Linked DNA regions of Homo sapiens. The protein of the gene in region 2 interacts with the protein of the main gene of each other region in a pairwise test. Each region holds a gene or a part of one and is shown on either strand. Other genes may lie near its edges.

Region 1 (2,686 bases), on a different chromosome or scaffold from region 2:
GTCACTATGTCACCCAGTCCACAGGGTTCAAGCAATTCTCCTGCCTCAGCCTTCGGAGTGGCTGGGATTACAGGTGTGCGCCACCATGCCCGGCTAATTTTTGTATTTTTAGTAGAGACGGGGTTTCACCATGTTGGCCAGGCTGGTCTCGAACTCCTGACCTCAGGTGATCTGCCCACTTTGGCCTCCCAAAGTGCTGGGATTACAGGCATGAGCCATCGCCCAGCCCAGAAGCTAATTTTTTAATATTGTATATGGTCTTATTTATACTTGAAGTTTTGTGAACGTCGCTAAACAGGATAGGACTAAAATTTCCAATTCTCCTACACTCTGTCAGAAGCCTAGAACTCACTAAACTGGGCTGCCTTTCCCAAATGGGAAAGGTGCTGACAGAGTTGGAGAAAAAAGAATAGACTCATTTTTCCCCATTATTGGTATGTAGGCATTGGTACAGCCCCTTCTGGGGCAGTCTTTGCAGGATAACATGCTATACCTGCTAAGATTCAAGCTGTTTTCCTCACACTGGACTTTAGGCCAAACCCAGTACCACGCAATGTGCAAGCAAGGGCAGGAGGTAGGTCCAATCTGACCCCTCCCTGTCTCATTTTAATGACTGGACAGCGCTCGGTGAAGGCTGTGTTCACTGTAGTGGGCCATCATTTGTTTCCTTCTTCTTGTAAAAGACCAAGCAAATGCACTCTGCTTTTTGCTGCTGTAAGACCACCAAAAATGAGTCAGAAACACAGAAGACTATTTCAGGCATGTGGGCCTGGATATGCTCCTTGAGACTTCTGGCAAACTTCTGCTGGGAATTAGTTTGAGGGTGAGGGTACATATGTGACATTTGCCCTAGCCTAAGAGTAGCAGGTAAAAAAAAGTTTCTTTCATCTTTTGCCTTACTGATAATACCATAATCCCCCTCAATTCAGACCTTCTGATTGAGTGCAGAGGAGACTAGACAGTCTCCTCTAGACAGGTTGTAGACACACCCTCCCCTAACAAAAACAAAACGAAAGAGTTCATACTCTGATTTTCCAACATCTAGGAAACTGAGTTTTATTTCCTAGCTCTAAGGCAGCCTTACTATATGTCAGTAAAGTGCTGAAAACTGTATATTTAGCAGTAGCACCCAAAACCAAGCCTTTAACCCCAACAATGTGTGTATCTTTTGCACAGCAAAAACTGCGAGGCCAGAACTAGTTTATCTGAACACCTCAGCTGCTGTAAGCTTCTCCTCTCTCACCCCGTAAACTGACAAGCATGATGAAAAAAGAAGCACATCCAAGTTTCTGCCTCTTTTAAATGTACTTGACTTTGCAAGGCAAGTAGTTTTACAGCCATTTCTGTTCACACTTTTCACCCCACAACTTGGGGATCTAGCTGAGACATTTCTACCTCGAACAAGTCACATGTACCACAGGTTCCTGAATAATTCCTGCAGGGCTGGTGACAGACATAACAGCTCTGGTTTTATAATATCTTGGGTATCTCTAAGGCCAATAAGGATAACATTATCTACCCAGAGAGTTTAGAAGAAAAGTAGGAGTCCAAAGGAAGAGTAAACAAGAATGGAGCTGTGTTCACACTGAATTTGGGGTCAATCTATTTCCCCCACCCTCTCTCCTCCCCAACCCTTCAGGAACCCTTTAGTTTATTAATCTTATACAGAAGAAACTAACTTAGAAACAAAGGATTCAATATTTGCTTATTTATTCTTTGTTAACATGAGAGTCCCATGTCTGAAAACCAAAGTCCAATTTCTGTCTGGCCTTTTGTCTCATCCTTCTTGGCAAAAGTAGCTTTTGAACTGATATAAAAAAAAATGCTGAGTAACAGAAAAGTATTAATGTGCTTGACACCATGACTGAAATACTATGATCTTGTTTGTCAATAAAAAGCAGCTATCTGTGAACCAGGTAACTGTGTGTTTTGGAAGATCTGTTTATTAACAGTAAATAAATAAGCCCTGTACAGAACACAGGCACTAGGTTGACAGACTCGTCTTTTGTAGGACATTTCTTCCTGCTAACCAGTACTGAAGGGCTTGTTTTTTTCGTAACTTTACACAAGGGGTACTATTGGAAAATATAGCTTTCTCAAGACATCTGATGTCAGTTTCCCATTGTTTTGCTTCACAAACATCAACAAAGTAAACCTGAACATGCTTAGCAATTTCCGAAAGTGTTCTTTGCTGACATTACTTTTGACATACTGTGTCAAAATTCTTAAGGTCTCCCCTCCTTTGGTAAAGTAGGCAAAACCTTACAAGGAAAACACTATAATACACGGAAATATACTGAGTTAGATTTCCAGTCACCTGCTCTATGGCTCTAAGATGCACTACATCCATAATGGTTCCTAGGACTGTGTCCACCTGATGGTTTGGAGTACGGAAAACCAGCCCCTATGGCTTAAGAGTCATCTCCCATGGAAGACAATGCTGGCCTTCTGAACGCTGGGGCTCATGGGCTTGTTGATGTGGCTTTCTGGTGTGCCAGGATCTCCTGGCAGCTCCTGTATACTTCAATCAAGCAGTCCAGCCGGGGCTTGGCACTCTGAATTCCAAAGGGGAGAAATGCGGAGTCAAGGTGAGAATATAAGGGAGTGCAGTGGTGCTGCATCCACTTGCAAATTTTTTTTTTTTTTTTTTTTTGAGACAGAGTTTTGCTCTGTTGCCCAGGCTGGA
Region 2 (3,774 bases):
CCCGCTCCATGGAAGCCCTGGTCTCAGGCACCTCCAGCTTTACCGTCTCCCTGCACACACCGGGAGCCTGGTAGGCTTCGAGCAGAAGCCGAGGTCCCATCAAGGGTCCAGACTTTCCGTGCCTCCTTTGTTTTCATCGAGTCTGGGCCGCTTTAGCTCTGGGGGACTGCCCTGAGCGTCTCCAGGCGTCTCTGCAACATTAACAAACATAAGGTTGGCAAGTAAATGAAGAATTCTGGAAGTCAAGGGCTGACATTTACAGAATACAGAGCCAAGACACGGAACTGAGCTGCCTGGCAAGATCCTATACTGATATAATGGAAGTTCTATAGAGTGGCTCTCAACCAGGGGCGATTTTGCCTCTCAAGGGACAGTGGGCAATGTCTAGTGGCATTTTTGAATGTCATGGGCAAGCTGGGCGCGGTGGCTCACGCCTGTAATCGCAGCACTTTGGGAGGCTGAGGCGGGTGGATCATTTGAGGCCAGGAGTTCAAGACCAGCCTGGCCAACGTGGTGAAACCCCCGACTCTACTAAAAATACAAAAATTACCCGGGTGTGATGGCGCACGCCTGTAGTCCCGGCTACTCGGGAGGCCGAGGCAGGAGAATTGCTTGAACGTGGGAGGTGGAGGCTGCAGTGAGCCGAAATCGTGCCACTGCATTCCAGCCTGGGCGACAGAGCAAGACTGCATCTCAAAAAAAAGAAAAAAAAAAAAAGAATGTCATGGGCAAGAAGTAGCAGCCGGGGATGCTGTTAAACATCGCATAATACACAGGACAGTCCTCCACAACAAAGAATTGCCTGGCCCACAAGGTCAGCAGTCATCAGGTGGAGAAACCTGAGCTAGACAATCTCCTGCTGAACCCACTCCCTGGCTCACCAGGATGCTCTCACTGGCCAGGTGCCCCCTGCTGAGGCGTAAACAGGCAGCCGGCGGGTTTAAACAATGGTTCCAATAAGATGCATCCCTGCTGTCTCAGAACTGACTTAAAATTAGGCGGCATTAATTTCCAAAAGAACAAAAGAAAAGATACTCTACCTTTCATTATATTAAACCAGTAACAATATTACTTACCTGACTGAATTTCTTCTGTAGAAGGGGTGGAAATCACACTGGTTGGTACAGAACTTGGTGGAGTGTCCGTCTTTAAGGGTGTTAAGTTTATTCTCCTTGATTTAAAAAAAAAAAAGTAGAGGGGTGATGGCTCATTAGTATCACAGGAATTGTTTATGTATGATACCAACCTTCAAAACTACCAAAGGAAATACTTAAATTTTCAGCTGAACTTCTGGTTCAAGGCATTAAATAGTAAGATGTGCCCACTTGTTTAATAACTGAGGATTACATTCATGTATTAAGTTAAACCATCACATTTATAACAGTCAACTTAAACCATAACCAGTCATCGAAAAGTTTCAAAACCTGTGTTCTGTTCATTACCGACGGTCTTGTGAACACTCTGCTGGCTGCTGTAAAAGGCAGTCAGATATGGTTTCTATATATAGAAAGCGTCGAAACACAGGTAATACTTTTTTAAAATCCAGAGCGTTGGGCCGGGCAAGATGGTTCGCACCTGTAATCCCAGCACTTTGGCGGGCTGAGGCGGGCAGATCACTTGAGGTCAGGAGTTTTCGACCAGCTTGACCAACATGGCAAAACCTCGTCTCTACTAAAAATGCAAAAAGTCAGCCAGGCATGGTGGCGCATGCCTGTAATCCCAGCTACCTGAGAGGCTGAGGTAGGAGAATCACTTGAACCCAGAAGGCGGAGGTTGCAGTGAGCAGAGAGCATGCCATCGCACTCCAGCCCGGGCAACAGAGCAAGACCCTGTCTCAAATGAATAAATAAATAAATAAAAACCCAGAGTCTTAATTTTCAACAACTATTCTTGTTTGCAAAAGATTACATCTTCAAGAAGCTTGGTAAATAATTCAGAAGAAATCAAGAGGGGAAAAATAATTTAATACCAAAAATAGTTCAAGGAATACCTTCCGTCACATAAAAACAAACAGAAAAATTGTAAAATACATTGCTAATCTGCAGAAAGAAATGAGAGATTTTAAGAGGGCGTTAAAGCCAGCAACCCATACACATATTATGAACTTGCCAAAGAAGACCTATTGGCGCAGGAGAGGCTGAGAGGCACAGGGCGCTTCTGTCCAGCTCACCATCCCCACCACTCCCCTCTGCATCCCCCTTCCCAGCTCTCCTCGTGACTCAGTTTATGGGAAGGTTGGGAGGCAGAGGGCTTGGTGGAGAAGGAACTATACAGGATCAGAGGGGTAACTGGACATCAGCTGCAGGGGAAGAATGGAAACAGGAGGCTGTGCTGCCTGACGGCAGAAGGATGTGCTAAGTGGCTCTGTATCCAGTAGAAGTGGCAGACACAGGCGTGCGTGCCAGCCACACTGATGTAAGCAGGGAAGAAACGACTCTGCACCTCCTGGGGATTATTTGTTATCAGATCAGGACCTCCGTTTCTCACCGACCAGGCTGCTGGAGACATCAAACGCAGTCTCAGGAAGACACTCCTGGAATTGCCTACATCCTGGGCAGAACAGCATAAATAAAAAATGGGACCTGCTTCCTGTCCTTGGGGGCTCACAACCAGCAGGGGAACTGGAGCATCAAAGCACCTGCTATGGAATCTGATGTGTGGTGACAAGGGAAAGGCTGAAGGGCCACAAAGACTGCAAACAGAGAGGGTACATTGAAATGGGTCTTTCAGGAGACTCCTGGCATCACCAAGAGGAAGAGGTGTCCAGGGCTTCCCCAGAGAAGGGAAGGACAGAGGCCTCAAAGGGCAGAGAGTGCTCTGGGAAGATGACATTCAGGACTAGGCCGGAGATGAAGGCCACAGACTCAGGAGAGAGAGTGGCCACAGTCCTGGATGACAGGCTGCAGCCAAATCACAGTCTGTGTGTGTGCATAGGAGCCTGGGCTTTATCTGACAGGCAGAAACTGGAGGAACAAACAGAGGCCTATATGCAAGAAATGACACTCTCGGATTTGAAGTTAAGAATCTCTCTGGCAACCTACTGGCATGAAGCATTCACCGCCTGAAATTTCACCTGCAGCAGGGTGGGAGCGTTCTGTCTGCATTTTGTGTTTCATTTTGCAATGACATCTTGTTCCAACAAGTTCTTACCGGGGTGTTGTCTTGCTCCAGGCTTGCAGTGTGTTCAGAGTGACCCTCCGGGATGGGTGGGCTTTTGTGTTTTGACTACTGGGCTGCAGGGTCTTCTCCTCCGAAGGCCCCGGCAAGGGGCTTTTGACAGCAGGAGTGATGGAGGGAGGGTCCCTGATGACTGTTGGGGCTGGGGCCTGTCTGGCCTGAGGGGGAGTCGTGCCGGGGCTGCTGGGGTCTTGGGTTCTGCTGGCAGGGGTTCCCTCTACCGGTCTGGGTCCTGGCGAAGACCCTCGATGTGTCTGACTCTTGGTTTTCTTTGCTGTATCAGGAGTTCTCATGTTCAAAACTGGCTTCTCTTTCAAAGGAATTCCAAGTTCATCTTTCTCAAATGTCACAAATGAGCAGTAACCGTCCGTGGAAGAAATGGCCAGGAAGGCACCATCGCTGGACCTTCGTCCCCAAAACAGGGAAAAGTTACAGACCTTACCAACACTCTCACATCTACTTAGAAGAGGGAAGTTCGAGCAAAATCACAAGCTTGTTTGAAGGCAAAAACCAGGGAAAAGATACAACTGGAAAAGAGTGTGTGATAGCGACTCACTCATGCAGTTTCATCGCGATTTGCTAAGTCGCTGCAACCTA

The links.
Region 1: the proteins of CHAF1B (region 2) and PLEKHH1 interact in a two-hybrid assay, tested with the Homo sapiens proteins (one large-scale study listed by BioGRID and IntAct).

The regions. Positions count from the first base shown.
Region 1 is NC_000014.9:67,587,618-67,590,303, forward strand, and holds the end of PLEKHH1 (pleckstrin homology domain-containing family H member 1), read left to right. Parts: 3' UTR 1-1,995; downstream 1,996-2,686. Other genes in the region: PIGH (phosphatidylinositol N-acetylglucosaminyltransferase subunit H), read right to left, coding at 2,528-2,555.
Region 2 is NC_000021.9:36,412,692-36,416,465, reverse strand, and holds part of CHAF1B (chromatin assembly factor 1 subunit B), read right to left. Parts: intron 3,583-3,774; coding exon 3,151-3,582; intron 1,172-3,150; coding exon 1,077-1,171; intron 192-1,076; coding exon 100-191; 3' UTR 1-99. UniProt on the Homo sapiens protein: Acts as a component of the histone chaperone complex chromatin assembly factor 1 (CAF-1), which assembles histone octamers onto DNA during replication and repair.